Linked DNA regions of Homo sapiens. Each later gene encodes a partner of the first gene's protein in a complex. Each region holds a gene or a part of one and is shown on either strand. Other genes may lie near its edges. The genes, in order: CASC3 and UPF3B.

Region 1 (16,865 bases):
CCTCCATTTTGAACTCAGGCAGTTGGCTTTTGGAGCTGGACTTATAAGTTGTCACGTTTGGCCACTTGTCTAATTAGCTGAGATTGTTTGAATTTTCTTTTTTTCTTTTTTTTGAAACAGAATCTCTTTGTCTCCCAGGCTGGAGTGCAGTGGCGCGATCTCGGCTCACTGCAAGCTCCGCCTACCGGGTTCACGCCATTCTGCCTCAGCCTCCCGAATAGCTGGGACTACAGGCGCCTGCCACCACGCCCGTCTATTTTTTTTTATTTTTAGTAGAGACGGGGTTTCACCGTGTTAGCCAGGATGGTCTTGATCTCCTGACCTCGTGATCTGCCCGCCTCGGCCTCCCAAAGTGCTAGGATTACAGGCGTGAGCCACCGCGCCCGGCCTTGAATTTTCCTTTCATCTCTGAAGGCATTCATAATTACTTCCAGTTTCATGTTATCTATAAATTTGATAAACATCAGGATCCTTAACCATGTCATTTATAAAAATTTTACTCAGGAAAGGCCGGGCGCGGTGGCTCACGCCTGTAATCCCAGCACTTTGGGAGGCCAAGAACGGCGGATCACGAGGTCAGGAGATCGAGACCATCCTGGCTAACACGGTGAAACCTCATCTCTACTAAAAACATAAAAAGTTAGTCGGGCCTGGCGGCAGACACCTGTAGTCCCAGCTACTCGGGAGGCTGAGGCAGGAGAATGGCGTGAACCCGGGAGACGGAGCTTTCAGTGGGCCGAGATCACCCCACTGCACCCCAGCCTGGGCGACAGACAGAGTGAGACTCCCTCTCAAAAAAAAAAAAAATATTTTACTCAGGGAAGAATTCTATGCCATGGTGGCCTTTGTTTGATAACATACATTATTAACGTGCACTCCTGTAGGTGCACTAAAAACTTAGCTCATGCACTTTGTATATCCTTATAATGGTCCAAAGAAAACACACTGATTCTTTTCAATGGTGGCCAATGCCTTGCCAAAATGAAATAATTTCCATAAACCTTAAGAAGGAAATAATGTCAGGATTTTGAATCAACATCTGTTTCTACTGACCATTTATTTTTAAATAGGTTCTAAAATCCTGACAAGGGCAGTAGCTCATGCCTGTAGTCCCAGCACTTTGGGAGGCTGAGACGAAAGGATCGCTTGATCCCAGCCAGGAGACAAGCCTGGGCAAGAGCGAGACCCCATCTCTACAAAAAACAGAAAAATTAGCCGGGTGTGGTAGTGTGTGCCCGTTGTCCCAACTACTAAGGAAGCTAAGGCAAGGAGGTCACCTGTGCCTGGGAGGTCAAGGCTGCAGTGAGCCGCGCTACTGCACTCCAGCCTGGGCAACAGAGTGAGACCCTGCCTCGAAAAAGCCAAAACAAAACCGGTAATACTGGCATCATACCAGCCTGCACTTTGGGACAGGTGATGGCTGGGGTGGGAAGAAACGTGAAGAGGAAATGAGAACACAGAGAAAACGCTGCAACAAGAAGTCCTCTGGCTTCACTGCAGACAACTGGTTTCTCCTTCGCCCGTTATCTTAAACAAGGCTGGTGCAGCAAATCTGACGCAGCACTACAGCTTTTAAGATTTACCTTGATTCGTGATTTTACCAAGCAAAGGAATGCAGTAAATTGACCTGCTTCAAACGTAGGTAGAAGTGAGAAATGGAAACAGAAAACCATGAAACAGCCCTAGTGTTGCAGTGAAGCTGTGACAGGTTGACTCCTTCCACTCGGGAAGCCCAAGATGGCCGGGCCAGGAACCCGGGAGGCTGCTGAAGTCTCAATTCCCCTCGCCCTAGGCCTGCCCAAGGGAAGTCAGGAGCCGCGCCACGCCCCCTTACATCACCGATAGACGTAATCCGGGTCGGCCGCAAACGTGCCGCAGGCCTAGGCCCCGCCCAGTGCCCCGCCCCTCCCCCAACACACACACACACACACACACACACACACACCCCAACACACACACACACACCCCAACACACACACACACACACACACACACACACACACACACACACACACACACACACACAGCGGGATGGCCGAGCGCCGCACGCGTAGCACGCCGGGACTAGCTATCCAGCCTCCCAGCAGCCTCTGCGACGGGCGCGGTGCGTAAGTACCTCGCCGGTGGTGGCCGTTCTCCGTAAGATGGCGGACCGGCGGCGGCAGCGCGCTTCGCAAGACACCGAGGACGAGGAATCTGGTGCTTCGGGCTCCGACAGCGGCGGCTCCCCGTTGCGGGGAGGCGGGAGCTGCAGCGGTAGCGCCGGAGGCGGCGGCAGCGGCTCTCTGCCTTCACAGCGCGGAGGCCGAACCGGGGCCCTTCATCTGCGGCGGGTGGAGAGCGGGGGCGCCAAGAGTGCTGAGGAGTCGGAGTGTGTGAGTGCGCGCAGGCGGGGCGGGGTGGGGACCGGGCGGCGAGCCGGCCGGGGGCGGGGTGTAGGTGATGCTAGGTAGTCTGTGAGTTGATAGTAGATACTGGGACTTTTTTTTGTTTTTGAGAGAAAAGGGGAGTTATCCCAATGCGAGTTTGCATCCGGAGTTCCAAGGGAAGAAGAAGGATTGGGGGTTTCTGGGAGGATGGTAGAGCCGCTGGAGATGGAAAGCGGATGTTTTATTCAGAAGTCGGGGCTGGAGGGAAGGAGACCAGACCTGCCTTGGCTACTACTTGATAAAGATTTACCTATCTCTGTCTCCCTCTCCAACCATTTTGTGCTGAATCTTCAGCTTTTCACCCACATTTCTTTATTGGGCTCCCCACCTCTGGAAATCACAGAACTAACCCATGTCTTCTGCTTTCTTTCAGGAGAGTGAAGATGGCATTGAAGGTGATGGTGAGTAGCATCTTTTACCCCATTAGGACAAGAGTTTTTTTTAACATAAACTCAGGTCATCTATTTCCAACATCGACATTCTCACACACTGTCACGGATTTAGGGCCACAGAGTGCCTTTTTGTAACATAGTGGTTAAGAGCATAGGCTTTAGCAGTATAGTCTTCAGCAAGTTACCCTCTGAGCCTGTTTCTCCTTTTGTAAGTGGGGACTATAATTTTATCCACGTTGTAGGTTGATGTCAGAATTAAATGAGACTCTTAGTCTGACCTGTAATAAGCAGCCAAAAAATGTTTCTGGGTTTCTTTTTTTCCACATATTTCTGTTTTATTTCAGCTGTTCTCTCGGATTATGAAAGTGCAGAAGACTCGGAAGTGAGTATGACAGGTTTTTTCCTATGGTATAGATCAGAAATGCTTTTTAAAAACGTGTACACACCTTCGTTGCAAACGTACCATGACCTCCGTGTTTATCCTCTTGTGTATTCTTCATTTATGCTTCTGAAAAAGTGTTACAGAAGGTCTTGTTCACTTTAGACCTAGGGAAAACTTGGGGCACGCCGTCTCAAGCCACAGGTGTTATACTGTTAGTTGGCTTCTCTTCCTGTCTGAAGAATATGAGGTTCTAAATAAGAGAGTGAGGATATCTTGAAGTCCTCTGAAAGATGTTTGACAGTTTGTTTTATGCAGTGTAGGTTGAGAAGCCAGCCAATTGGTTATTTTTTTCCAAATCTATCTGAAGACTTTGAAAGGGTAGGATTCGGAATGTTTTGTGCCAAGAGCATCCATCATTTTATAGGTGGGGATTTTTCTGTTTTTAGGAGAAAGTTTCCTGTCTTTTGGATAAACTACTAGAGATGCCATCAGAGTAAGTGTTTGTTTCCTGGGTTGTTGAGTGGACTCCTGAGTTCTGGTAATGGGATTATATATAGGGGGAATTGGATGGTGGATCAAAGATTTTGTCTATACATTTTTAGAACTGTTACTACATTTTAGAATCTGTTAAGCCCTTGAGGATGGAATAGTGAACACTATAACAAAATTCCTATCTTTAGAGATCTTACAACTCAATAAGGAAGTCAGACAAACATTCAAGCAATTGTACCACTTGCTGATAGGGGATAGCACTGGGATAGGGCTAAGTAGGGTGTTACAGCTGGGTACTGAATCCATCTTAGGCAGTCGGGAAAGATTAAACAGTTGGCTGGGTAAGATGTGTTCTAGGCAGAGAGAACAACAGTCAAGAAAGCCCACAGGGGCCGGGAGCAGTGGCTCACGCCTGTAATCCCAGCACTTTGGAAGGCTGAGGCAGACGGATCACTTGAGGCCAGGAGTTTGAGACCAACGTGGCCAAAATGGTGAAACTCCATCTCTGGCCCGGCGCGGTGGCTCACGCCTATAATCCCAGCACTTTGTGAGGCCCAGGCGGGCGGATCACGAGGTCAGGAGATCGAAACCGTCCTGGCTAACATGGTGAAACCCCGTCCCTACTAAAAATACAAAAAAAAATAATAATAAATTAGCTGGGCGTGGTGGCGGGCGCCTGTAGTCCCAGCTACTCGGGAGGCTGAGGCAGGAAAATGGTGTGAATCCGGGAGGCGGAGCTTGCAGTGAGCTGAGATTGTGCCACTGCACTCCAGCCTGGGTGACAGAGCAAGACTCCGTCTCAAAAAAAAAAACCCATCTCTACTAAAAAATACAAAAATTAGCTTGGTGTGGTGATGCATGCCTGTAATCGCAGCTACTTGGGAGGCTGAGACACGAAAATCGTTTGATCCCAGGAGATGGAGGTGGCAGTGAGCTGAAATCATGCCACTGCACTGCTACCTGGGTGACAGAGTGAGACTCTGTCTCAAAAAAAAAAAAATAAATAAATAAAAGAAAGGCTGTAGGGGTACAAAAAGAATAGTAATTAGAATGAATAAGATCTAAACCCAGCGCGATGGCTCACACCTGTAATCCCAGCACTGTGGGAGGCCAAGGTGGGCCAGTCACTTGAGGCTAGGAGGTCAAGACCAGCCTGGCCAACATGGCAAAACTCCATCTCTACTAAAAATACAAAAATTAGCAGCTCATGGTCCCGCATGCCTGTAATTCCAGCTACTCAAGTGGCTGAGGCAGGAGAATCCCTTGAGCCTGGGAGGTGGAGGTGGCAGTGAGCCATAATCACACCACTGTACTCCAGCCTGGGCAACAGAGCAAGACTCTTGTCTCAGAAAATTTAAAAAATAAAAATGACTAAGATCTAGAATTTCATATTTGCAACATGGTGACTACAGTCAACCAGTAACTTATTGTACATTTAAAAATAACTATTGGCTGGGCACAGTGGCTCATGCCTGTAATCCCAGCACTTCGGGAGGCTGAGGTGGGTGGATAACAAGGTCAAGAGATTGAGACCATCCTGGCCAACATGGTGAAATCTCGTCTCTACTAAAAATACAAAAATTAGCTGGGCGTGCTTGCACGCCCCTGTAGTCCCAGCTACTCAGGAGGCTGAGGCAGGAGAATCGCTTGAATCCGGGAGGCAGAGGTTGCAGTGAGCCGAAATCAAGCCACTGCACTCCAGCCTGGTGACAGGGCAAGACTCCATCTCAAAAAAAAAGTATATATATATATTAATAAAAGAACGTAATTGAATTGTTTGTAACAAAGGATAAATGCTTGAGGCGATCCATACCCCATTTACCCTTACATGATTATTACACATTGTATATCTATATAAAAATATCTCATGGGCCGGGCTTGGTGGCTCACACCTGTAATCCCAGCACTTTGGGAGGCCGAGGCGGGTGAATCACCTGCGGTCAGGAGTTCGAGACTAGCCTGGCCAACATGGCGAAACCCATTTTCAGTCTCTACTGAAAATAAGAAAAATTAAGTAGGCGTGGTGGCAGGTGCCTGTAATCCCAGCGACTCAGGAGGCTGAGGCAGGAGAATCACTTGAACCCAGGAGGTGGAGGTTGCAGTGAGCCAAGATTGTGCCATTGCACTTCATCCTGGGCAACAAGAGGGAAACTCTGTCTCAAAAAACAAAAACAAAAACAAAACTCATGTACTACATAAATATATACCTACTGTGTACTCAACAAAAATTAAAAACTTTCTTTTTCTTTTTTTTTTTTTGCTTGAGATGGAGTCTTGCTCTGTAACCCAGGCAAGAGTGCAGTGGCATGATCTTAGCTCGCTGCAACCTCCACCTCCCGGGTTCAAGCGATTCTCCTGTCTCAGCTTCCCAAGTAGCTGGGATTACAGGTGCACACCACCACACCCAGCTAATTTTTGTATTTGTAGTAGAGACGGGGTTTTACCATGTTGGCCAGGCTGGTCATGAACTCGTGAACTCAGGTGATCCGTCCGCCTCAGCTTCCCAAAGTACCGGGATTACAGGTGGATTACGGGTGTGAGCCACTGTGCCCAGCCCTCTTTTTTTTTTTTTTTTTTTTTTAAAAAAGAGGCAGGGTCTCACTCTGTTGCCCAGTCACCCAGGCTGGAGTGCAGTTGTGGGGTCACAGCTCACTGCAACCTCAAACTGCTGGGTTCAACCAGTCCTCCTGCCTTGACCTCCTGAAGTGCTGAGATTACAAGCATGAGCCACCATACCCAGCCAAAAAAAAAAAAAAATTAAGTTTTTTTTTTTTTTATTGAGATGGAGTATTGCTCTGTTACCCAGGCTGGAGTGCAATGGCTCGATCTCAGCTCACTGCAACCTCTGCCTCCTGGGTTCAAGCGATTCTCCTGCCTCAGCCTCCCGAGTAGCTGGGATTATAGGCGCATGCCACCACGCCCGCCTAATTTTTGTGTTTTTAGTAGAGATGGGGTTTCACCATGTTGGTCAAGCTGGTCTCGAACTCCTGACCTCAGGTGACCCACCCACCTCGGCCTCCCAAGGTGCTGGGATTACAGGCATGAGCCACCGTGCCCCCCATTTTTTTTGTTTTGTTTTGTTTTGTTTTTTAAGACGGAGTCTCATTCCGTTGCCAGGCTGGAGTGCGGTGGTGCAATCTCGGCTCACTGCAGCCTCCGCCCCGCCTGGTTCAAGTGATTTCTCCTGCCTCAGCCTCCCGAGTAGCTGGGACTACAGGTGTGCACCACCACGCTCAGCTAATTTTTGTATTTTTAGTAGAGACGGGGTTCCACCATGTTGGCCAGGATGGTCTCCATCTCTTGACGTCGTGATCCACCCACCTCGGCCTCCCAAAGTGCTGGGATTACAGGCGTGAGCTACTGCGCCTGGCCCAAAATTTTTTTAAAAAGAGAAAAAGCCCAGATAGAGAAGATAGAGAGCGTTTGGGAACTTGGGAGTAATTAGGTGTGACTGGAGCATTGTTGGGACAGGATAGGTATTAGAAATAAAGACAAATTGGTGAGCAGGGGCCACTAATTGGTGAGGTGGGAGGATTGCTTGAGCCTGGGAAGTGAAGGTTGCAGTGAATCAAGATTGTATCACTGTACTCCAGCCTGGGCAACAGAGCAAGACCCTGTGTCAAAAAAAAAAAGTGATGCGATTGGATTTATTTATTCATTTTTTAAAAATTTTTATTTACTGTTTTTTGTTTGTTTGTTTTTTTAATTTTTAGTAGAGATGGGGTTTCACCATGTTGGCAAGGCTGGTCTCGAACTCCTGACCTCAAGTGATCTGCCGGTCTTGGTTTTTCAAAGTGCTGGGATTACAAGCATGAGCCACTATGCTTTGTCTGATTTAAATTTTAAAGATGTGTTTTTCAGATCCAGAGAACACTTGCATCAGAAAATCCAATTAGCCATTCTCTACTGAAACAGACTCTTGGGAGGGGCATTGGAGACTCAGACATTTATGTATTAAAGAATATCCCAGGTTGATGCTATGTACTGTAAAATTTGAGGATTCTTTTATAGCAGTTATTTTGTCCACAGTGAAGAGAAACAAGATCAGAGACAGAAAAGCTAGTTAAGAAAGCTATTGTAGGAATCTAGTTAAGTAGTGAGTGTGGCATGGAATAGAGTGGTGATAGTGAAAATAGAAGTGGACAGAATTCAGAGTTAGAAGTGGTTTTGGGATGGGGAATATTTGCTGCAGTACAGATGCTTTTTGATTTATGGTGTAGTTACATCCCATCCTGGTAAACCCATCATAAGTTCAGAAGTTCAAGATAACTTCTTGGCTAACTTGGAGCAGCAACTCTCTGTTGCTATCCAGCATCTCGAGAAGTACGATTTCTTTTTTTTTTTTTTTTTCTTTTTTTAAGACAGAGTCTCACTCTGTCTCACTCTGTCTGCAGTGGCGTGATCTCAGCTCACTGCAACCTCTGCCTCCCGGGTTCAAGCGATTCTCGTGCCTCAGCCTCCCAAGTAGCTGGGATTACAGGCGCACGCCACCATGCCTGGCTGATTTTTTTTGTATTTTTAGTAGAGACGGGGTTTCATCATGTTGGACAGGCTGGTCTTGAACTCTTGACCTGGTGATCCGCCTGCCTCGGCCTCCCAAAGTGCTGGGATTACAGGCATGAGCCACAGTGCCTGGCCTCTTTTTTATTTTTTTAAAAATATTTTTAATAGAGATGAGGTCACTCTGTGTTGCCCAGGCTGATCTTGAACTGGACTCAAGGGATCCTCCCACCTTGGCCTCCCAAAGTGCTGGGATTACATGTGTGGTGAGCCACTGCACCCAGCTGAGAAGTACAGTTTCTACTGAATGTTTATGGCTTTCATACCACCATAAAGTCAAAATTATAAGTTGAACCATCATACATCAGGGACCGTCTGTAGTCACTAGAGAATGGAAACGTTGGAGAAACTGACAGGCAATATGGAGTGTTCATTGAGTTTTGGGGATTGTGAATTTATAGCAGCTTACCATTCTATATGTAAGGGAGTTTGGATGTTTTCCTAATGGCTAGGAAAGAAGTACCACTGAAGGCTTAAATGTGGGGGATGAATTGTGGGTGAGGCACAAAGGAAGACTAGAGGCAGAAGAGCTGTTTAGAGGTTGTTAGGATAGTCCAAGGAGCATGACGATGGTGCCCCTAAAGAAGGTTCATACTTGTTGGAATGGCAAGATGTGGGACAGATTAGAGAGAGATTCTAGTGTACTAACAACCCCTTCATTGATTGAATGTGGAACCTAAATTAAGGAGTCAAAGGAGGCCAGGTACCTTGGCTCATGCCTGTAATCACAGCATTTTGGGAGGCTGAGGCAGGTGGATTGCTTGAGCCCAGGAGCCTGAGACCCACCTGGGCAACATGGAAAAATCCTGTCTCTACAAAAGAAAAGTAGAAAAAAAAATTATCCGGTCTTGGTGGCGCAGGCCTGTGGTCCCAGCTACTGAGGAGGTTCAGGCAGGAGGATCATCTAAGCCCAGGGAGGTCAAAGCAGTAGAGCTGTGATCACTCCACAGCACTCCAGCCTGGACAACAAAGTGAGACCCTGACTCAGAAAAAGAAAAAGGAGTCAAAGGAATGTGCAGGTTGATGAATGGTGTTGAATGGTGTTAACTGTTAAGGAAGGGACCCCAGGAGAAGAGTTCTGGAAGGACAGTTGTGGGTTAGGTTTTGGATGTTTTGAGATCGAGAAGGTGTGGGACTTTTAGGTGGTGATACCTGGTAAATAGTTTTTGATTCCTAATTGCTCATACCTTTCTGAGTTCTCATTTCATTTTTGAGTTTTTCCAATTCTGATTGATGTTCTTTCATGCCTTATATAATTTTCTTAATGTCTTTTTAGCTTATTTTGAAATAGAAGTTGCAATTTTGATATGATATGCGGATGTCTTTCTGGCATGCTTTCATTGTCTGTAGGAATGCTATTATTTTTTCTTATTATAACTTTATGGGATTTAACTTCTGTATTTTCTGTTCATTTTTATGTAAAATTAGTTTTCCTGGTCTTTTCGAAGGAAGCATGATTTAGAATAGCTTTTTCTAACTTCACAGAGCTGCTTCTGTTGTTTTTCTGTGGTGGTGAGAAATATGGTGGCTTGCTTTCTGAGATTTGTTGCTTTTGTTCCCTTTCCCAGCTTGTTCTGGACCATCCCTGTCCTACTGAATTTGGTCCTGCTCTCAACAGTTTCTCTTCTAGGAACTCCCTTCTAGGGACAGTGTAGGGCCCTGTCCCCAGAAGGAAGCCCTGGCAGCCAGGTCAGCTTCATCCCTTCAGACCTTTTTTTTTTTTAAGACAGAGTCTCACTCTGTCGCCCAGACTGGAGTGCAGTGGCGCAATCTCAGCTAACTGCAATCTCCGTCTCCTGGGTTCAAGCGATTCTCCTGCCTTAGCCTCCTGAGTAGCTGGGACCTCGTGTGTCACCGTGCCCAGCTAATTTTTGTATTTTTAGTAGAGATGAGGTTTCACCATGTTTTCCAGGCTGGTCTCGAACTCCTGACTCAGATGATCCACCCACCTTGGCCTCCCAAAGTGATGGGATTACAGGCATGAGCCACCGTGTGTGGCCCCCTTGCTAGTTGTAAGTGCTGTTCTCAGTTTTGACTGTTGTGCTTTCCCTTGACTGCCTGTTGATTATTTCAGTGTTCTCCTGTTCTCAGGTCCATTTGCTTTCTCTCTGCTTTCTCCTGCGTGGACACCAGTACTATACAGGTCCTACAGCTGTTGGTGCTTTGTTATGCACTTACATTTTGGGTCTTGGGGGATACCTGGTAACTTAACTTTGTTGCAGTGTTGTCTGAAGGTTTTGGTTTCTTTTTTATTTTTTGAGACAGAGTCTTGCTGTCGCCCAGGCTGGAGTGCAGTGGCTTTGCCTTCCAGATTCAAGCTATTCTTGTGCCTCAGCCTCCTGCGTAGCTGGGATTACAGGTGCGTGCCACCATGCCTGGCTAATTTTTGCATTTTTAGTAGAGACGCGGTTTTACCATGTTGGCCAGGCTGGTCTCGAACTCCTGGTCTCAGGTGATCCACCCACCTCGGCTTCCCAAAGTGTTGGGATTATGGACGTGAGCCACTGTGTCTGGCCAGGGTTTTGGTTTGGGTCTCGGTTTTGCTGTCCAGAGCTCTCATTCCATGTGGAGATTTGAAGAGAGATAAAACTGTGCCACTGCCATTTTCTGAGAGTCTTCCAAGAATTCTTTTTTTTTTTTTTTTGGCAAATGGGTCTCCTTATTTTGCCCAAGCTGAGCTTGAACTTGAACTTACAATCCTCATCAGCCTCTTGAATAGCTGAGACAATAGGTTCATGCCACTGTGCCTGGCCAAAAAAACTTGTTAAAGAAATTTGACTGAGGGAAGGCTGAAGAGATGGTAGTTGGAGAGGTAGCTTTGAGATCAAGAGGTGATTTGGATGTTTTTTAAAAAGTTAGGAGAGTATCAAATAAGGTCAAAGATTGAAAAAAAGAAAAGAAAGGGGGAAAAAAGAGAGGGAATAGATAATGATATTGAGTACTGGTATTTTTGACTGAGTATATGAGAAAAAGTAGGAACCAGACAAGATTAACATCTTCCATTGTAATTACAGAGAAGTGGGAAGGAAAGGTATGTGCAAAGGAAGATTAGAAAGGAGGGAAAAGCTGGGTGCGGTGGCTCACGCCTGTAATCCCGGCACTTTGGGAGGCCGAGGCGGGCAGATCACGAGGTCAGGAGATCGAGACCATCCTGGCTAACATGGTGAAACCCCGTCTCTACTAAAAATACAAAAAATTAGCCGGGCATGGTGGCGGGCACTTGAGCCTGGGCGACAGAGCGAGACTCCGTCTCAAAAAAAAGGGAAAAAAAAGAGGGAATAGATAATAATATTAAGTACTGGTATTCTTGACTAAGTACATGAGAAGATGTAGGAACCAGATGAGAAGTATCTTCCATTGTAATTACAAAGAAGTGGGAAGGAAAGGAAGTTAGCGTTCCTTTCTGTGTTTTGTTTTTGTGAAATAGAAGGATAGAGCAGGACAGGCACGGTGGCTCACACCTGTAATCCAAGCACTTTGGGAGGCCAAGGCAGGAGGATTGCTTGAGCCCAGGAATTTGAGACCAATCTGGGCAACAAAGTGAGACCCTCTCTCTACAAAAAATCAACCTGGCGCAGTGATGTGTGCTTATGTCCCAGCTACTTGGGAGCTTGGAGTGGGAGGATCCCTTGAGCCCAGGAGGTCGAGGCCACAGCAAGCTATGATTGCACCACTGCACTCCACCCTGGGTAACAGTGTGAGACTCTCGAAAAAAACAAAAGAATGACATCTGCTTCAAAAAGTAAGAGTGTGTGCGTGTGTGTGTGTGTGTGTGTGTGTGTGTGTAACCCCCTTTGGCAATGGAGTAGTCTGTTGTAGGCCTGGAGAAAGCAGACATTTGAATTGATCCAGTTCCAGGCATATGGGAGTGGCAAGAGAAATGGGATGTTACTAGTAGTGATTGAAATGAATGAGCTATGGAGTCTAGAGAGAGAAGAAAGTGAATGTGAGAAAGGACTGATAGGCAGAAGTTAGAAGCATCAAGGGAATGGATGCATTGAAAAATTAGAGACGAGACAGTAAGGAAACAACTAGGAATAAGAGGCATTTTTTTAAAAAACTGCTTTATTGTGGCAAGGCGCCGAGGCTCATGCCTTTATCCCAGCACTTTGGGAGGCTAAGGCAGGCAGATCACGAGGTCAGGAGATCGAGATCATCCTGGCTAACACGGTGAAACCCCGTCTCTACTAAAAATACAAAAAACTTAGCCAGATGTGGTGGCGGGCACCTGTAGTCCCAGCCACTCGGGAGGCTGAGGCAGGAGAATGGTGTGAACCCGGGAGGTGGAGCTTGCAGTGAGCCGAGATCACGCCACTGCACTCCAGCCTGGGCGACAGAGTGAGACTCCCTCTCAAAAAAGAAAAAAAGAAAAAAAACTGCTTTATTGAGATACAATTCACAGAACGTACAGTTCATTTATTTATAAAGTGCATAATTTAGCCAGGTGCGTGCCTGTACTCAGCTACTCAGGAGGCTGAGGCAGGAGGAATGGTCGGCCCAGGAGTTCGAGACCAGCCTGGGCAACATAGTGAGACCTCATCTCTTTTTATTTGTTTGTGTGTTTGTTTTTGAGACAGAGTCTTGCTCTGTCACCCAGTCTGGAGTGCAGTGGCACAATCTTGGTTCACTGCAACTTGACCCTCTGGGGTTCAAGTGATTCTCGTTCGTCAGCCTCCCGGATAGCTGAGGTTACAGGTATGTGCCATATGCCTGCCTAATTTTTAGTATTTTTAGTAGAGATGGAATTTTGTCATTTTGGCCAGGCTGGTCTCAAACTCCCAGTCTCAAGTGATCTACCCACCTCAGCTTCCCAAAGTGCTGGGATTACAGGCGTAAGTCACCACGCCTGGCCCGTAAGACCTTATCTCTATAAAAAATAAAAAATTTAGCCAGGCGTGGTGGCGTGCACCTGTAGTCCCAGCTACTTGGCAAGCTGAGGCAGGAGAATTGTTTGAGCCCAGGAGGTCAAGGCTGCAGGGAGCTGTGATCATACCACTGCACTCCAGCTTGAGTAACAGAGTGAGACCTTCATCTCAAAAAAAAAAAAAAAAAAAAGGAAGGAAGAAACCCAGTTCTCCCATCCTTCCCGTAGCCTCAAGCAACCGCAAATCTACTTTCTGTCTCTGTTGATTTTCCTATTCTGGCCTTTCATATGAATGGAATTATGTAATATGTAGATTTATGTGTCTGGCCTCTTTCAGTATAATGTTTTCATCTGACTTGTAGCATGTATCAGTACTTCATTCCTTCTTTCTGCCTCCCCACCCCAGCTTTATTGAGGTATAACTCACAAATAAAAATTGTATACATTTAACACATACAGTGTGGCATCTTGATATATGTGTACATTGTGGAGTACCACAGTTAAGCTAATTAACGTATCTATCACCTCACCTAGTTAACCTTTTTGTATGTGTGTGATGAGAACACCGAAGAGCTACTCTCAGCACATTTCAAGTTTACAATATGTTATTTATTTTTATTTTACATGGTTTAAAAAGAGACAGAACCTTTGTCACCCAAGCTGGAGTTCAGTGATGCAGTTATAGCTCACTGCAACCTCAAACTCCTGGGCTTAAGCAATCCTCCCACCTCAGCCTCCTCAATAGCTGGGACTACAGGCGTGCACTACCATGCCCAGCTAATTTATTTATTTGTTTTTATTTTTATTTTTTTTTTGAGACGGAGTTTCACTCTTGTTGCCCAGGCTGGAGTGCAGTGGCATGATCTCAGCTCACTGCAGCCTCTGCCTCCTGGGTTCAAGCGGTTCTCCTGCCTAAGCCTCCCAAGTAGCTGAGATTACAGTCATGCGCCACCAAGCCCAGCTAGTTTTGTATTTTTAGTAGAGGTGGAGTTTCTCCATGTTGGTCAGGCTGGTCTCGAGCTCCCGACCTCAGGTGATCCACCCACTCAGCCTCTCAAAGTGCTGGGATTACAGGCGTGAGCCACCATGCCCAGCCGCCCAGCTAATTTTTAAACAAATTTTTTGTAGAGGCAAAGAATCGCTGTATTGCCCAGGCTGGTCTTGAACTCAGCTTCAAGCAATCCTCCAGCCTCAGCTTCCCAAAGTATTAGGATTACAGGCATGAGCCACCATGCCTGACCAAGTATACAGTACGCTATTATTATTATTATTTTAGACAGTCTTGCTCTGTAGCCCAGGCTGGAGTGCAGTGTTACAATCTCGGCTCACTGCAGTCTCTGCCTCCCAGGTTCAAGCAATTCTTCTGCCTCAGCCTCCTGAGTAGTTGGGATTACAAGCGCCCACCACCACGCCCGGCTAATTTTTTTATTTTTAGTAGAGACAGGGTTTCACCATGTTGCCCAGGCTGGTCTCGAACTCCTGACCTCATGATCTGCCCACCTCGGCCTCCCAAAGTGCTGGGATTACAGGTGTGAGCCACCACGCCCAACCAGTAAGTTATTATTAACTATGGTTACCATGCTGTACATTAGGTCTCCAGAACTTATAACTGAAGTTTTATATCCTTTTACCACGATCTCATTTTCGCTACCCTTAAGCCCTAGAAACCCCCTTCCTACTCTCTGTTTCTATGAGTTTGACTTGAGATCATGTGGTGGTTATCTTTCTGTGTCTAGCTTATTTTACTTAGCATAGTTCCGTCTAGGTTCATCCATTTGTTGTCACAAATGTCAAAATTTTTTTTTTAGGGCAGAATTAGATTCCATTGTTCGTGTGTTCCACATTTTCTTTATCCATTCACCCAACAACAGACACGAGTTATTTCCATAGCTTATTTCCATCTTTTGGTTATTATGAATAATTCTGCTACAAACATTAGTGTACATGTTTTTATGGGGACATATGTTTTCACTTCTTTTTGACTATGTACCTAGGAATGGAATTGCTGAGTCATGTGGTAACTCTGTAATCATTTGAGGAACTAGAACCGCCATACTGTTTCCAAGGTGCTGCACCATTTTACGTGACTAGCAGCAGTGTATGAGGGTTCCAGTTTCTCTATATCCTTAACAGCACTTGTTGTGTTATTTACCCAGGTGCATGCCTGTACTCTCAGCTACTCAGGAGGCTGTGGCAGTAGGATTTCTTGGGCCCAGGAGTTCGAGACCAGCTTGGGCAACATAGACCTGTCTAAAACTTTTTTTTTTTGGCGGGGCACGGTGGCTCACGCCTATAATCCCAGCACTTTGGGAGGCCGAGTCAGACGGATCACTTGAGATCAGGAGTTCCAGACCAGCCTTGCTAACATGGCGAAACCTCGTCTCTGCTAAAAATGCAAAAATTAGCCAGCCACTGTGGCACGCGCCTGTAATCCCAGCTATTCAGGTGGCTGAGGCATAAGAATCACTTGAACCCGGGAGGTAGAGGTTGCAGTGAGCCGATTTGATTCTAGATGTCCTATTAGGTATGAGATGTTTTCTCATTCTGATTTGCATTTCCCTGATGACTAATGATGCTGAGCGTTTTTTTTTTTTTTTTTTTTTGGTGCTTATTGGCCATTTGTGTATCTTCCTTGAAGAAATGACTATTCAGATACCTAGGCAATTTTTTAAAAATTAATTTTTAATTATTGTTTTTATTTTTTTTAGAGACAAGGTCTTGCTGTATTATCCAGAGTGGTCTCAAACTCCTGGGCTCAAGCAAGCAGTCTTCCCACCTCAGCCTCCTCAGTAGTTGAGACTATAGGCATCAGCCACCACACTTGATCTTTGCCCAAAGTAGCTGGGATTACAGGTGTGCGCTGCCATGCCCGGCTAATTTTTGTATTTTTAGTAGAGACGAGGTTTTGCCATGTTGGCCAGGCTGGTCTTGAACTCCTGACCTCAGGTGATCTGCCCACCTCAGCCTCCCAAAGTGCTGGGATTACAGGTGTGAGCCACTGCGCTTGGCCATTTTTTTTTTTTTAATTGAGATGTAAGAGTTCTCTATATATTCTGTATTCTAGATGTAAGTCCCTTATCAGATATGATTTGCAAATATGTGTTCCCTTTCTGTGGATTGTTCACTTTCTTTATAGTGTTCTTTCAAGGACAAAGGTTTTAGTTTTGATGAAGCCTGGTTTATGTTTTTCCTTTTGTTGCAGATGCTTTTGGTGTTAGGTATCTAAGAGTCATTTGCCAAACTGAGAGTCATGAGTATTTACTCCTGTGTTTTCTTCTAAGAGTTTTATAGTTTCAACTCTTAAATTTAGGTCTTTGATTCATTTTGAGTTAGTTTTTATATGTGGGGTAAAGTAAGGGTCTAACTTCATTCTTTTTGTTTTTTGAGATGGAGTCTCGCTCTTTCACCCAGGCTGGAGTGCAGTGGCGCTATCTAGGTTCACTGCAAGCTCTGCCTCCCGGGTTCATGCCATTCTCCTGCCTCAGCCTCCCGAGTAGCTGGGACTACAGGCACCCGCCACCACGCCCAGCTGATTTTTTGTATTTTTAGTAGAGATGGGGTTTCACCGTGTTAGCCAGGATGATCTCGATCTCCTGACCTCGTGATCTACCCATCTTGGCCTCCCAAAATGCTGGGATTACAGGCATGAGCCACTGCGCCTGGCCAACTTCATTCTTTTGCACGTGACGATTTTGGTCCATGACTCGGGTGTTTATACGTAAGGTTTTATTTTGTTTTGTTTTGTT
Region 2 (16,865 bases), on another chromosome or scaffold:
AGAAATTGATCAAACACTTGCTTTCCTATTGTTTCTAACAGTTTATATTTATTTTTAAATTATTATTTTTTTAAATTTTTTGAGGCACGGTCTCACTTTGTAACCAAGGCTGGAGTGCAGTGGTGTGATCATGGCTCACTGTAGCCTTGACTTCCCAGACTGAAGTGATCCTCCAGTCTCAGCCTCCTGAGTAGCTGGGGCTACAGGTGCACACCACTATGCCCAGCTAATTTTTAAAAATTATTTTAGAGATGGGGTCTTGCTCTGTTGCCCTGGCTGGAGTGCAGAGGCACAATCTTGACTCACTGCAATCTCCACCTCCCAGGCTCAAGCAATTCTCGTGCCTCAGCCTCCCGAGTAGCTGGGATTACAGATGCCCACCACCACGCCCAGATAATTTTGTATTTTTAGTAGAGATGGGGTTTCACCATGTTGGCCAGGGTGGTCTTGAACTCCTGACCTCAAGTGATCCGCCCACCTTGGCCTCCCAAAATGCTGTGATTACAGGCGTGAGCCACTGCATCCAGCCTATTTTATGTTTAAATTAATAGACTTTTATTTGTTTTATTTAGAACCAGCTCTTACTTTTGTTTACAGTTTTGGGTGAGATGCCTGCTTCTACTTCACCTTCTGCCATGAGTTAAAGCTCCCTTAGGCTTCACTAGAAGGTGAGTGATGTCAGATGTCAAAAATTTAATTTCTCAAAACTCATAGCTATTTAGTAAAGTTAATAAACACACTTAGCTTCACACTTGAATGCTGTTACTATTTATTGACATCAAAACGAAACAAGCTGAGACTAAAAGTTGCTATTTAACAGGAATAGACACTGGTGCAGTTTCCTTCCTGGAGAGGGTATGCACTCAGATCATGAGACCTAAGATCAAACACACTGGATTGTCAAGAGTCAAACAAGGACTACATTTTACCTCTTAATAGAAAAGATGCTGATGACAAAACACGAAGTTTAAAAATATTCTTTACGCTAAGCTCATATAAGCAAACAAAAAACTAAAACTAATCCTAAAACTTTAGGACACTGGATACAGAAGTAACATAACTATTTAAATTTTTGTATCAACGAAAGTGTGTTCTATCCTTCACTGTACCTGTACTACAAGGACATGCTTGTTGCTTCTACACTACCCAATGTCAACACTTATCATCAACAATACAATAGAATTAGATCGGAACAAGGCTTCAAAGCGACTCTGCTCCACCCAAATTCAGAAAATTCAATTCAGGATGAACAACAGCTTTTGATTTTAGAACCAGCTCTTACTTTTCTCTCGTGTCATATGTGATGAAGTCCTCACTTGACAATTCCCCCTGCAAATTGCAATGCATGTCCTTGCCGTCACCTTTTTCTGACACTTTAAAATTAATTTGTAGAAATTGCAAAAGCAATGAAATTGTACTTCCAATTCTGAACCTCTGATCAGATTCCTGCTTTGACACAAGACTTACTCCTCTGCAGTGTACCCCACCAGCACAGCGGCTCCCTTTCTCTCTATTCTTTGCCCTGAAGGCACCTCTGGATTGCTTAACGTGTGCTCTTTGGCTGCCTAGACAGTCAGGACACCTAAGGCCATCTGGACTTATCACTCCTCTCCTCCTTCTTTTCTATGGCTAATACCACTTTCCTGCTTCCTTTCTGCTGCTGAATCTCCAGACTTGGTGCTGTCATCAGGGGGACAGAGTCGATTTCGGCTTCGAGCTCCTGGTTGGTAAAGCTGCATCGCTGGACGATCCTGAAGTACAATAAAATATGTTACCATTACAACAATGCTACTAAGCTTTTATATGGGATTTTTAAGAGTCATAGTTATGTATGAATATATGCTCAAGTGAAGTCATTTAAGACCAAAAATGTGAGGGCACGGTAAATGACAACTTGCCTACTTCCTCTCTCCATCTCCAAAGAAAAGCAACCATTTGGTAATTACTATTTTATATGCTTGGGTAAATTTTTTTTTGGAGATAGGGCCTCACCCTGTCACCCAGGCTGAAGAGCAAGTGGGATGATCAAGGCTTATTGCAGCCTCGACATTCCAGACTCAAACGATCCTCCCACCTCAGGTACCTAGTAACTGGGATTATAGGCACGCACTACCACACTGGGCTGTTTTTACATTGTTAGTACAAACAAGCTCTCCCTATGTTGCCCAGGCTGCTTTCCAACTCTTGGGCTTAAGTGATCCTCCTGACTTGGCCTCCCAAATTGTTGGGATTACAGGCATGAGCCATCATGCCAGGCCCTAAGTGCCAGTTTTAAAGGAAGCACAGAAGACAGAGGAACACGTTAAATAACAGCATGGGGATGTAATCTGCCAATTCAGAACAGGAAAAGCCCTACAAGACAAATTGGTTTCTGCAACAAATGGTAGGAAAACAAGAGAAGGGGAAATTGTTTAGATTAAAAGAAAACTTGGCTGGGTGCAGTGGCTCATACCTTTATTCCCAATACTTTGAGGGGATCGGCTGAGCTCAAAAGTTTGAGACCAGCCTGAGCAACATAGGGAGACCTCATCTCTACAAAAAAACTTAAAAATTAGCTGGGCATGGTGATGCATGCCTGTAGTCCCAGCTACTCTGGAGGCTGAGGTAGGGGGATGGCTTAAGCCCAGGAGGTCGAGGCTACAGTGAGCTGAGATTGTACCACGGCACTCCAGCCTGGGTGACATAGCAAGACTCTGTCTCAAAAAATAAACTAAAAACAAAAGAGAACTGAAGAAGACATTTCAAGGAAGCATAATTTGTGGAATTTGTTTAGGTCCTATTAAAAAAAAGACATTAGGCTGGGCACGGTGGCTCATGCCTGTAATCCCAGCACTTTGGGAGGCTGAGGCGGGAGGATCACCTGAGGTCAGGAGTTCGAGACCAGCCTGGCCAACATGGTGAAACCCTGTCTCTACTAAAAATACAAAAATTAGCCGGGCATGGTGGCTTGAGGCTGTAGTCTCAGCTATTCGGGAGGCTGAGGCAGGAGAATCACTTGAACCCGGGAGGTGGAGGTTGTGGTGAGCTGAGATCATGCCACTGCACTCCAGCCTAGATGACAGAGCGAGACTCCATCGCAAAAAATAAATAATTAATTAATTTTAAAAAGACATTAATGAAGCAATTGGGAACATATGAACACTGAATAGACAGGACGTTAAGGAATTATTGTTAGTTTTTTTTGGTGTGAAAATGCTACTAGGGTAATATTAATAGAGTATTTATCTCATATACTGAAGTATTTAAGGAAGAAATTATGTGCAGGGTTTGTTTGAAAATAATCTAGTAGGGGTAGGGATGAAGTAGAATAGAAAGAAGGTTGGCTATGAACTGCTGGGTGATGGGTACAGTACATGGAGTTCATCATACTATTCGATTTTTTTTTTTTTTTTGAGACAGAGTCTCGCTCTGTTGCCCGTGCTGGAGTGCAGTGACGCGATCTCGGCTCACTGCAAGCTCCGCCTCCCAGGTTCACGCCATTTTCCTGCCTCAGCCTCCCGAGTAGCTGGGACTACAGGCGCCCGCCACCACGCCTGGCTAATTTTTTGTATTTTTAGTAGAGATGGGGTTTCACCATGTTAGCCAGGATGGTCTTGATCTCCTGACCTCGTGATCCACCCGTCTTGGCCTCCCAAAGTGCTGGGATTACAGGCGTGAGCCACCGCGCCCGGCCAGTTTTTTTTTTGAGACTGAGTCTCGCTCTGTTGCCCAGGCTAGAATACAATGGCGTGATCTCGGCTCACCTCAACCTCCACCTCCCAGGTTCAAGTGATTCTTCTGCCTCAGCCTCCCGAGTAGCTGAGATTACAGGTGTGCGCCACCACATCCAGCCGATTTTTTGTATTTTTAGTAGAGACGGGGTTTCACCATGTTGGCCAGGCTGGTCTAGAACTCCTAGGCTCTAGCAATCCACCCACCTCAGCCTCCCAAAGTGCTAGGATTACAGGTGTGAGCCACTGCACCTGGCCCATCATACTATTCTCTATTCTACTTTTGTGTATGTTTACAATTTCTATAGTAAGTTAATAAAAGCCCAGCCAAGACTGAAATAAAAGTTGGTCAGGCGTGGTGGCTCACGCCTGTAATCCCAGCACTTTGGGAGGCTGAGGCAGGTGGATCACGAGGTCAGGAGATCAAGACCATCCTGGCTAACACGGTGAAACCCTGTCTCTACTAAAAATACAAAAAAATAAGTCAGGCGTGGTGGTGGGCGCCTGTAGTCCCAGCTACTTGGGAGGCTGAAGCAGAAGAATGGCGTGAACCCAGGAGGCGGAGCTTGCAGTGAGCCGAGATTGTGCCACTGCACTCCAGCCTGGGCAACATAGTCAGACTCTGTCTCAAAAAAAAAAAAAAAAAAAAGTTGCAGATGATTAAAGTTCCCCTTTAAAAATTCTATAATAACAGTGCCCTTTACACTTTCTTTACACTTGCAGGAAAAGGGAAAAAAACCCTCATAAACAAGTTTAATGACAAGCAGCACCTTGTTTCTTATTCGATCTCTCTTGACCACTTCTTCTTTCTTTTCAGTTTTTTCTGAGCTGCCTATTGATTCTGTACTTTCAGCCTTCTTTCCTTTATCCCGAAGTGTGTCTTTCTCTTTTTTCATTTCTTCTTCTTTTCTCTTAAAAGTCTTCTCTTTCTCATAGCGCTCCTTCTGCCTACGGCGCTCTTCTTCTTGCCGCTTCAGCCTCTCTCTTTCTCGAAGTATGCGCTCCTGATCTCGTTCATATTCCCGTTCCCTCTCCCTATAGTCTCTGCCGCTCTCATCTTCAGGTCTGCATGAAAAACAAATCTGAGACAGAACCCTGAAAGATCTTGTAATCACAAATGCAGGAACACTGTGATTCTGATTTGGCCCCTGCAATGAGGTTGCACTTTTAGAGCAGAGTGAAAAATACTAGTGTTTTAAGAAGGAACAAAACCCCAAAACCATTCACCCAGATTAAGATACAAGAATATTCTGAAACTGTTCCTCCTCATCCCCCTGCCCTGCATAAAACAGCTTATCTTAATTCAGGTACATGTCCAGGACATAGCAGCAAAACTAGCATGTATAAATCAAACATAACAAAGAGTCCTTGACTACTGACCTCTTTGGTTTTTCATCTTTAAGTTCGCTATCAGAACGCTTGGGCAATGTACAACTTTGCCCACTGGCTCTTTCATCACTGAGATTCTCTTTGTCCAATTTCTTGGCTTTTTCTCTTTTGTCCAATTCTTTTTCATCTCCTTTTTCTGGCTTCTTGAGCAGCTTTAAAGATAAAATGTTTATTTTTATTTTGAAGGCTGGGACACTATCTTCTATTAAAAACCCAGTATACCAAATATTTAAAATTTAGACTAGACAAAGCCCCCTATCTCTGCAGGTACACTTAATCTTTCAGGTGAACAACTAGTGCATAAGAGTAGTAATTTACTAAAAGGATGCTATTAATGTTAAAGTGTTATCCACTTGAACGAAGTGGTTTAATCACTTTGTGGCAATAGGATCAAGACTCCTTTGGCTTTTATTCTGAGGCAGGGTCTCACTACTCTGTTGCCCATGCTGGAGTGCAGTGGCATGAACATGGCTCACCGCAACCTTGACCTCCTGGGCTTAAGTGGTCCTCCTGCCTCAGCCTCTTGAGTAGCTAGGACAACAGATGCACACCACCACATATGGCTAATTTTTTAATTTTTTTGTAGAGACAAGGTCTCATCATGTCACCCAGGCTGTTCTCAAACTTCTGGGCTCACACCATCCTTCTGCCTCGGCCTCCCACAGTGCTGAGATTACAGGTGTGAGCCACTGTGCCCGGCTTCCTTTGGCTTTAAATGGGTCAACCTTTAAGTGAACCAATGCATACTTCAAAGTATGCTTCTGTAGCAAACCAGCATGTTGATATAACTTAATGGGAAACAGCCCACAAATTTTAAGTGATAGGCAGATCGTTTCTGTTGGGACTGTTTTTATGTAGTACTTGGAATGACAAATACCTTGGTCACCAAAGGAGAGATCCATTGCAGGAATAATTTTGCCTTGAGCCTGAGAATAACATACTTATGATGGTACAATTATCTTGCCATTAGAGATTAATAACAAGAATTATTTGGCATTTGATTTAAAAATCTAAAGGCCTTATACAACCAAATAGTGAAGTTCCATCTCTACTGAGTAGGAACTCTGTATTTAATGCCATATTTACGCATGTTCAAAAATGCCATTGTTTTTTACATTGCTGCTATGAATCTCTCGAGAATACCTCCAAGTGTCGGATAATCAGAGAGATTCTTAGGCAAAATAGAAGAATTTCAAGTCTCAGAGTGAAGGTATCACACAAGGTTCATCTCAGGGTGAAGGCATCATGTAAATTACTAAGCAAAAGGCAAAGCACCACAAGACATAAGCACAAAGCATTTTGGCACACAGACAGCCACTGCAAATGGTGAGTCCAAAATGGACACTGAGAAGGCACCAGTGTAAAATGAGGATACCATGTGCAGGTTTCATTGGAAGTGCTCTTATTTCTCCAATGAACATCCTTATTAGAAACCAAGGTGTTCATTACTCTAATAAGAACATTAATGAATGTCTCTAGCATGGCTGGCTCTACCTTCTGCCTTGCTGATTGTTAGGAATAGCAAGTCAAGTCACTTGTGGCATAGCAGACAGAGAGATTGCTGGAAAGAATTAAGATGAGAAACTCCATCCTCCCCCAAGCCCCTCATCATCAGTAATGAGCCCCGTAGAGACTTAGGGAACCCTTGCTACATAAACTGCTGAGTTTTCAGGAAATAAAATAAGGAGACCCTGCCACCCTCTCTGTGAGATTTTCTTTGACTTTATCTGAAGTGCTAGGTACTAGTACTTCCCCAGGAAATATGTTGAAACAAGGGCTGCCCAAGCCATGCCCTTAGAAGGGAAGTGGCAAGGTTGGGATCTTTCTGCAGGTTTTCTTCTTCCCAAATGCAATGCATGAATCCGAATCTGCTGCTCACAGATTCCCAGATATATGCAGGAAGATACTACGGGAGTCATGTGAGAGGGAAAGGCACATATTGCAGGGTATTTATCCCTAGTCCTCCCACAAGGCAGCCAGTTATGAGAAGCATATAAGAAGATGAGAAAGAACTATATAGGCATGGTTGTCCTCTGGCTGTAGGTCAATGAAGCTTCTGGGCACACAGCAGAGCATCAGGAAGTCACCTGGGCTTCCTTTTAAAGTAGAAATTTATAATAAAATAGCTCAGCTTTTAAGAAGACTCAAGTCAACCTGAAGGGGTTTTCAACAAGTAACACTACCACCACCACCACCAAAAGGACTTATTAGCTAAGACCTGTGTGTGTGACATGATACTAGATGCTCTGTATCATGTACTTGGTCCTTACATTTTTCTGATTCACAGCTTGTAACAGAAACCTGTGTACCTGAAGACAGTGGAAAACAAACAGATGAGGTAACTTCATGTATCAATTATGAAGAAAAAGCTGAAAAAAAACCATAAATCATGCCAGCCAGCCCTAAGCCCTCATTTACTATGAATTTAGAGGACAATAGTCTAAAAATCCAACATTTTCAATGACAAAAACAGCACAGATCTGCACTGAAGAAATAACATACTACTTTATCCTTTTAAATGATCTTAAATTTAAAAACTAATACTATTACAGGAAAGATTTTTATTGGATCACTTCCCCCCAAAAGAGAACAAAAACAAAACAAAAAATTCATTTACACCAACACAAGACGCATGCATATTTAAAGAAGTAGATACGTGCAATTTTTAGCAACATGCAGTCAGTTTCAACATTCTTATACCTTAATCTTTGGTTCATCCTTTAATTTGTCCCTTTCTGGAATTCTGTCTATCTTCTTTAGCTTTTCTATATCTTTCCTTTTTCGTTTCTCTTCTTCTTTCCATTTCCTCCTCTCTTCTTCTCTTTGTCTTTTTCTTTCTATTTCTCTCCTCCTCCTTTCTTCTCTCTTTTCTTCTCTCATTCTCTAGAAAGAAACATCAACACAAGCCTTCAAATAAAATAATCATCACCAAAACCCTAATAAATCCTGAAGTCATGGTAGGCCCCAACTGAATAATCTTTCCTTCCTACTTTCTACAAAGTGGCATTCTACCACCGTTATCCCCACTCCACCCAGAAAACGAAAGACAATGAAGACCAGAACCTGCTAATATTATTCTTCCACTGCTGCCTTACTATCTCTCCAGAGGCTTTCAGAATATCAAATGAGTGTCTCTGGGACAACCTAAGAACATTCCACGTTTGTAGAGTGAACTCCTGGTCCAACAACCAGAGTGAAGGAGCAGGCTAGAGAGTGAGACCAAGAAGGCAAATCCTTAAAGAGTAATGGTGGAAAAAGCAGCTATTTCTCCTCTAGAAACCCAATGCTCTTAAAATGTTTATAGAATGCAAAGCAAAGAAATTAAAGTATTGAGAGAACTATAAAGACAAAAGATTTACCTGCTTGTTTTTCAGGAAGCTCAAAAGTGGGGTTGTCTTTTTAGCTACATAAATGTAAACAGATTATTAATCATACTTATCAACCCCTAGAAACGATTCCATTTTCTGACATTCCCTGCCAACCACCCAAGGTGGGAAAACATGTACACCCCTTATGCAGAAAGATCACAATTGTAATATCAGAAAGAAGTTTTACAGCATTCGATTTCAACAATACGGGATTAAAATACCTTTTAAAAAGTAAAGAAATTCAAATTAAAACAACAAAATAATTTATTAAAAGAGTCATTCCCAACTGATGAGAATTAAGTACTTAGGACATTCTCTTGTTTTACTGATAGGAGTGTAAACTTGTTCAACTGGAAGAAGTTGGGGGGAAGGGGCTAAAAATATCTAATCCTTTTGACCCCATAATTCCACTTCTGGGAATTTATTCTAAGAAAGTTACCAGAAATAGGCTTGTACTATCCATCTATTAATAAAAGTCAAGTTTTGGAAGAATATTTTTCATTTTCAACATTCTGAATAAGCTATTGGCCTTACAGCCATCTTAAAACACATATTCCTGGCCGGGCACAGTGGCTCATGCCTGTAATCCCAGCACTTTCAGAGGCCAAGGCAGGCGGATCACTTGAGGTCAGGAGTTCGAGATCAGCCTGGCCAACATGGTGAAACCCCGGCTCTACTAAAAATACAAAATTGGCCGGGCGTGGTGGCGGACACCTGTACTTCCAGCTACTCGGGAGACTGCGGCAGAATCGCCTGAACCCAGGAGGCGGAAGTTGCAGTGAGCCGAGATTGCGACACTGCACTCCAGCCTGGGCGACAGAGCAAGACTCCATCTCTCACACACACACACACACACACACATACACACACACACACACACACACACAGAGAGAGAGCGAGCGAGCAAGCAAGCAAAAAAAACAAACAAACAAACAAAAAAACCCCACATATTCCTTAGGATAAATTCCTGAGTAGAAATCCTGGGTCAAAGATTATGCTCATGTTTAGAGCTACTGATACAGTAGTGACAGCCTATTACTGAGAACCAAGATCCAAGCTAGAATTCCTCAAGTAGTTTTCAATTTTGCAGTAACTAATTTCATTTTTTCGTATTTTCAAGTCAAAATTTTTTTAGGAATATGAACTTATTACTAGAAAATACCAATTGACCTTCAAAGGCTTACCACTGTCTAAACATTCCTTATCAGTCATCGAACTTTTTGTATTTATATTACATTTGTGTGAAACTAAATAGGTCAAAGAATTTTTCCCACTTTAATGGATTCTCATAATGCTGTGAGGCAGGTATTACCATCTGCAATTTACAGTAACAGTCTCAGAGAAACTAGTAACTTCCCTGAAGTCACACAGCTAGCAACTGATGGAGGTAGGAGACTTAGGTACTGTGATGAAAAGACTGTTGCCCTGATTCTTTTTGCCCACTTACCTATTAATTCTCTATTTTTTGCTTCTATTTCCTCTAGCAGTGTCTCTGGAGTAGATGTCATTTTCTCATTATCTGTGGCATAACTTTCCAAAAACTTTCTATATTCTGGATCTAAATAATCATTTGAGGAAACAGAAAATATAATAGACTTTAAACAAAAAAAGAAGACATTATCTACAATACTGATTTATCAAAGAAGATAATTTTTTACTTCGTGGAAGATTAAAAAAAACCAAACCATACCCACAAGGTAGACTATTTAGAGCTTAATTGGTCACTTGCTCTCAGGACTCCTATCACTGATACTCACTATAGGAATCTGGTATAACATGGGGTCAGGAAAAATGAGACGCCATGCATTATAACAGAACCACTAGGGGTATTACATAGTTTGCTTTTAAAAGTCACTGTCCTACTAAACTAAGTTAGGTGTTCCAAAAAGATAAATTAGAGAGAAGTCCTAGATGTGGCACTTGAGGTGATGGGAATTCCTGGAGTTCTCTCCTAGACCTCTAACATCAGAAAGGGTGACACATCTAAGCCATTATATTGCTTGTTTCTATGTGTCACTTGATCAAGTCTTCCAGATCTAAATCTGTAATAAAACCAGTATCACAGCTATGTGTTATTGAGTCCTTACCGTGTTTTCTTTATAAAATACCTGTAATAGTAACAAATGATGGAAATTAAACTAGATGATTCTAAAGTAACAATCTGATATAAAATATGGTCCTAGTCCTTATCCAACATAAAGAGTTGTGTAACAGCTATCTAACATAACATTACAGAGGTCTCAAAATCTGGAGCCAGTGTACCTTAAATGGCAATTATTTTGGTTTTTCAGTTCTTGTATTTCTTTCTTTCTTTCTTTTTTTTTGAGACGGAGTTTTGCTTTTGTTGTCCAGGCTGGAGTGCAATGGTGCGGTCTCAGCTCACTGCAACCTCCGCCTCCCGGGTTCAAGTGATTCTTCTGCCTCAGCTTCCCAAGCAGCTGGGATTACAGGTGCCCGCCACCATGCCTAGCTAATTTTTGTGTTTTTAGTAGAGATGGGGTGTCACCATGTTGGCCAGGCTGGTCTCGAACTCCTGACCTCAGCAACTCTGCCCGCCTTGGCCTCCCAAAGTGCTGGGATTATAGGAGTGAGCCACCGCGCCTGGCCTCAGTTCTTCTATTCCTGTTCAACCTAATACTATGTGTGTAGCTAATTGTATATCCAAAGACCAGAAAATAGGAGTGACAACTTCAGCTACTTTATACAAAGTTACCTGGGTATGGAAATTTTCCCATGACAGTTCAAACCTTCTTCTTTATAAATATAATGGAAACCAAAAGTCAAATAAATAATCATAAAAATGGTGAGGCCTCAAGAAGCACCTGTTAAACTTTGAAACCTGATTTTTTTCCACTATTTTCTTTTTCTTTTTTTTTTGAGATGGAGTTTCGCTCTTGTTGCCCAGGCTGGAGTGCAATGGTGTGATCTCAGCTCACTGCAACCTCCGCCTCCTGGGTTCAAGAGATTCTCCTGCCTCAGCCTCCCGAATAGCTGGGATTACAGGCATGCACCACCATACCCGGCTAATTTTATATTTTTAGTAGAGACAGGGTTTCTCCATGTTGGTCAGGCTGGTATCAAACTCCTGACCTCAGATGATCCGCCCGCCTTGGCCTCCCAAAGTACTGGGATTATAGGCGTGAGCCACCACGCCTGGCCTTTCCACTATCTTCTAATCAATAAACCTATGGTGATTTGTTACTCAATAGTCAACATTATATTGTTCAATGGTTGAAGAATGAAATGCCCTAGCCAAAGAGAGCAGAGATTCTGTGCAAGAAACTCTCTCTAGTCTAACAATTAAGCAAAGCTTCCATCGGCAAATAACATTTCTCACTTACTTTATTTTGTATATTTTCTAATTTAAAATTTTGGGGTCGAATTAACTCTCACAAAGATATTATTTTTAAAAACCCCACAGCAATAGCATTATATAATTAGAGCTATACTGTACCATCATCGATAGTCCCGACTTTGGTATCTCTTTTCTTAGTCTTCTTTTTTGCAGCTTTTTGAAAAGGTGCAAATTCTACTATAGCGGGATATTCCTGACCTGTTTAGAAAAAAAATACCACACTTGCTATAACAAAGAAAATGTCAAAAGTGGATATAAGGGAATCAACCCATTGCTTTCTATGACTCTTTTGATGGCAGTCATCTGAAGAGGGTCTCCCAAAGGCATAAAGCACACTGGCACAACCATAATCAACATACTACAAAAGGAGCCACAAATTCACACTGATAACATAGTGAAACAACACGGCATGAAAGTAAAATATTCATATAAATTCAACTTATAAAATGTGATATTTTAATGTGAAAAAGACCCTACAAACTATTTTTCATTTTAAAATGTTAGAAATCTCCAAAATAGGCAAATCTATAGAGACAGAACGTAGAGTAGTAGCTGCCTGGAGTTTGGGGTAGAAGTGGTGAGAAGAATGAGGAGTGACAACTAATGGGTGGGGTTTCTCTTAGGGGTGATGAACATGTTCTAAATTTAGATTGTGGTGATAGGCTCATAAGCCTATGAATATACTAAAATTCACTGAACTGTATACTTTAAAAGGGTGACTATTTCAGGCATGTGAATTATATCTCAATAAAGCTGTTATTTTTTAAAAGTGTAACTATTTGAGGTGATGTGTTATGTGAGGTGATGAATGTGTTAACTTGATTGTATATATTTCATAATGTATATATGTATACATTATGTATACATTTCATAATGTATATATGTATACAATATGTATACATTTCATAATGTATACATTTCATAATGTATACATATATAAAATTATCACGTTGGGCTGGGCACCGTGGCTTATGCCTATAATCCCAGCATTTTGGGAGGCCGAGATGAGAGGATCACCTGAGGTCAGAAGTTTGAGACCTGCCTGGCCAACATGGTGAAACACTGTCTCTACTAAAAATACAAAAATTAGCTGGGCGTGGTGGCACGTGCCTGCAATCCCAGCTACTCTGGAGGCTGAGGCATGAGAATCACTTGAACCCAGGAGGCAGAGATTGCAGTGAGCCGAGATCATGCCACTGCACTCCAGCCTGGGCGACAGAGTAAGACTCCGTCTCAAAAAAATAAATACATAAAAATAAAAATAAATAAAAATACAAAAATTAGCCAGGCGTGATAGTGCACGCCTGTAATCCCAGCTACTTGGGAGACTGAGGCAGGAGAATCACTTGAACCTGGGAGGCGGAGGTTGCAGTAAGCTGAGATTGTGCCACTGCACTCGAGCCTGGTAAAAAAAAAAAAAAAAAAAGAAAAAGAAAAAAGAAAAAACAATTATTACATAGTAAAATTTAAATATATATTATTTTATTTGTCAATTATAGCTCAATAAAGCTGGGGAAAAATCTGTTAACACTTAAAAAAAAATACACCAGGACACCAAAAGCACAGGCAACAAAAGTAAAAATACAGAGGGTAGATCTCATGTTAAGTGTTCTTACCACAATAAAACAAAAATATAAAGTATATCTCTTATTTAAAAAAAGTAAAAAATAGATAAATTGGACTACGTCAAAATTAGAAACTTCTATGCATCAAAAGACACAATCAACAGAGTGAAAAGGCAACCCATGGAATGGGAGAAATATTTGCAAATTATATTATCTGATAAGGGGTAATATCGAGAATATATAAAGAACTCCTATAACTCAACAACAAAAAACCAAATAACCCAATTTAAAAAATGGTCAAAAGACTTGAATAGACATTTCTTCAAAGATAATATACAAATGGCTAACAAGCATATGGAAATATGTTCCACATTACTAGTCATTAGGGAAATGCAAATCAAAACCACAATGAGGTATCATCTCACGCCTATTAGGAGGACTACTATCAAAAAGCAGAAAATAACAAGTGTTGGCAAAGATGTGGAGAAACTGGAACACTCATGTATTGGTGGGAATGTAAAATGATGCAGCTGCATGGAAAACAGTATGGCAGTTCCATAAAACATTAAAAATAGAATTATTGGGCCAGCCTGACTAACATGGTAAAACCCCATCTCTACTAAAAATACAAAAATTAGCTGGGTGTGGTGGTGGGCACCTGTAATCCCAGCTACTCAGGAGGCTGAGGCAGGAGAATTGCTTGAACCCAGGAGGTGGAGGTTGCAATGAGGGAAGATCGCGCCATTGTACTTACTCCAGCCTGGGCAATGAGGGCGAAATTCCATCTCAAAAAAACAAAACAAAACAAAAAAGAACTACCGGCGGGGCACAGTGGCTCACACCTGTAACCTCAGCACTTTGAGAGGCCGAGGTGGGCGCATCACTTGAGGTCAGGAGTTTGAGACCAGCCTGGCCAACATGGTGAAACTCCGTCTCTACCACAAACATAAAAAATTAGCAGGGTGTGGTGGCAGGTGTCTGTAATCCCAGATACTTGGGAGGCTGAGGCAGGAGAATTGCTTGCACCTGGGAGGTGGAGGTTGCAGTGAGCCAAGATCATGCCACTGCACTCCAGCCTGTGTGACAGAGACTCTGTCTCAAAATAAATAAATAATAAAATAAAAATAGAATTACCAAATGACTCCAGAAATTCCATTTCTCGGTATATATCCAAAAGCAGTGAGAACAAGGACTCGAATATGTGCACATCTGTGTTCATAACAATATTGTTCACAATAGCCAAGAGTGGAAGCAACTCGAATACCCCTTGACAGATGAATGGATACACAAAATGTGGTATATACATATACTGGAATATTAGTCTTAAAAATGAGGCTGGGGGCAGTGGCTCATGCCTGTAATTCCTAGCATTTTGGGAGGCTGAGGCAGGCATGTCACTTCAGGTCAGGAGTTTGAAACTAGCCTGGCCAACACAGTGAAACCCCATCTTTACCAAAAGTACAAAAAAATTAGCCAGCTGTGGTGGTGGGTACCTGTAATCCCAGCTACTTGGGAGGCTGAGGCTGGAGAATTGCTTGAACCCAGGAAGCGGAGGTTGCAGTGAGCTGAGATCGCGCCACTGCATTCCAGCCTGGGCAACAAAGTGAGACTCCATCTCAAAAAAAAAAAAAAAAAAAAAAAAGATGAAAATTCTGACACATGCTACGACATGGATACACCTTGAAGATATTATGCTAAATGAAATAAGCCAGACAGACACTGTATGTTTCCACCTATATGTGGTACCTACAGTAGTGAAACTCATACAGACACAAGGTATAATGGTGGTTGCCAGGGGCTGGAGGAAGGGAAATAAGGAGTTGTTTAATGGGTAAAGAGTTTCAGTTTTTCAAGATGAAAAAGTTCCCAAGATTGTTGCACAACAGTGTGAATATACCTTAATGCTACTGAACTGTACACTTAAAATGGTTAAGATGGTAAATTTTATGTTACGTGTATTTTTACAATTTTTAAAAATGCAAAAGGAATGAGGTAATGATATATGTTATATGTTACAACATGGATGGACCTTGAAAACATTGTGCTAGGTAAAAGAAGCCAGTCAGAAAAGACCACATATTGTATGATTACATTTATATGAAATGGAGGGAAATCATAGATACATAAAGTAGATTAGTGGTTGCCAGGGGCTGGAGGGAGAGAATGGGAGGTAACTACTAATAGATATGGGTTTCTTTTTGGAGGGATGAAAACATTCTGGAATTAGTACTGATGGTTGTACTACCTTGTGAATATACCAGAAACCACTGAATTGTACGCTTTAAGAGGATGAATTTTATTATAGGTGAGTTATATTTCAATACAAAAACCCCAAGTGACTAATGGGAAAAAAATTCACAAGCACCCTGTCACAGAATGTCAAAAACAAGGTATCCTATCCTTAAATCATTGGCATGTAGACATAAGCAGAAAAATAAAAATAAACAGAATTGACCAGAAGGCACTGCAAAGCAGTCATGGAGGAAAAATTATGTTGGGAATCCCAGTGAGTAGAGAATCAGATTAGCTTCAAAACTGTGATATATTAGGCCAGGCATGGTGGCTCACGCCTGTAATCCCAGCACTTTGGGAGGCTGAGGCGGGTGGATTGCTTGAGGCCAGGAGTTTGAGACCAGCCTGGCCAACATGGTGAAACCCCATCTCCTAAAATTACAAAAATTAGCTGGGCGTGGCGGCACACACCTGTAATCCCAGCTAAGTCGGCAGGCTGAGGAACGAGAATTGCTTGAACCCAGGAGGCGGAGGTTGTAATGAGCCAAGATTGTGCCACTGTACTCCAGCCTGGGCGACAGAGTTAAGACTCTGTCTCAAAAAAAAAAAGAGAGAGAGAGAGAAGAAAAAGAAAAAAAACAAAAATAAAAACCAAAAAACAAAACTGTGATATATTTGAGAAGGAATAGATAAACCAGACTGAAACAGAGGGAAATTGTGGAAGACAGGCTGAAGAAACAGAAGTGAGGCCAGAATATGGAGGACCCTGACTACCAGGCTAAGGAGTTTGGACTTTTTCCCCCAACTGTTAATTTAAATCATTATTTTCAAAAAGATTAATTTCATGGCAATATAATAGACTGAATTATACAAGAATGAAAAAAATGGAAAATCCTGTAAGTTTAGAGACAGTGGTTGTCTAGGCATTAAGTGATGAGGACATAAAGTGTGACTGTTTAAGGCTAGGTGAACAAGATATTAAAAAAAAACAATAAAATCCAGCCTGGGCAACATAAGCAGACCTTGTCTCTAAGATTTAAAAACAAAACAAAACAAACAAACAAACAAAAAACACAATGAGGAAAGGATAGTCTCTTTAATAAGTGGTGTTGAGCTGGGTATGGTGGCTCGCACCTGTAATCCCAGCACTTTGGGAGGCTGAGGTGGGGGGGGGGAAATCACTTGAGCCCAGGAGTTCAAGACCAGCCTGGGCAACGTAGTGAGACCCCATCTCTATAAAAAATTT

The links.
Region 2: CASC3 (region 1) and UPF3B share a complex: the UniProt entries of both Homo sapiens proteins name them as parts of the mRNA splicing-dependent exon junction complex.

Annotation. Positions count from the first base shown.
Region 1 is NC_000017.11:40,138,405-40,155,269, forward strand, and holds the start of CASC3 (protein CASC3), read left to right. Parts: upstream 1-2,132; 5' UTR 2,133-2,144; coding exon 2,145-2,375; intron 2,376-2,802; coding exon 2,803-2,830; intron 2,831-3,165; coding exon 3,166-3,203; intron 3,204-3,649; exon of another isoform or gene 3,650-3,696; intron 3,697-16,865. UniProt on the Homo sapiens protein: Required for pre-mRNA splicing as component of the spliceosome. Core component of the splicing-dependent multiprotein exon junction complex (EJC) deposited at splice junctions on mRNAs.
Region 2 is NC_000023.11:119,833,277-119,850,141, forward strand, and holds the end of UPF3B (regulator of nonsense transcripts 3B), read right to left. Parts: intron 12,021-16,865; coding exon 11,922-12,020; intron 10,026-11,921; coding exon 9,915-10,025; intron 8,503-9,914; coding exon 8,459-8,502; intron 7,983-8,458; coding exon 7,800-7,982; intron 7,409-7,799; coding exon 7,370-7,408; intron 5,252-7,369; coding exon 5,091-5,251; intron 4,776-5,090; coding exon 4,481-4,775; intron 1,752-4,480; coding exon 1,602-1,751; 3' UTR 746-1,601; downstream 1-745. UniProt on the Homo sapiens protein: Involved in nonsense-mediated decay (NMD) of mRNAs containing premature stop codons by associating with the nuclear exon junction complex (EJC) and serving as link between the EJC core and NMD machinery.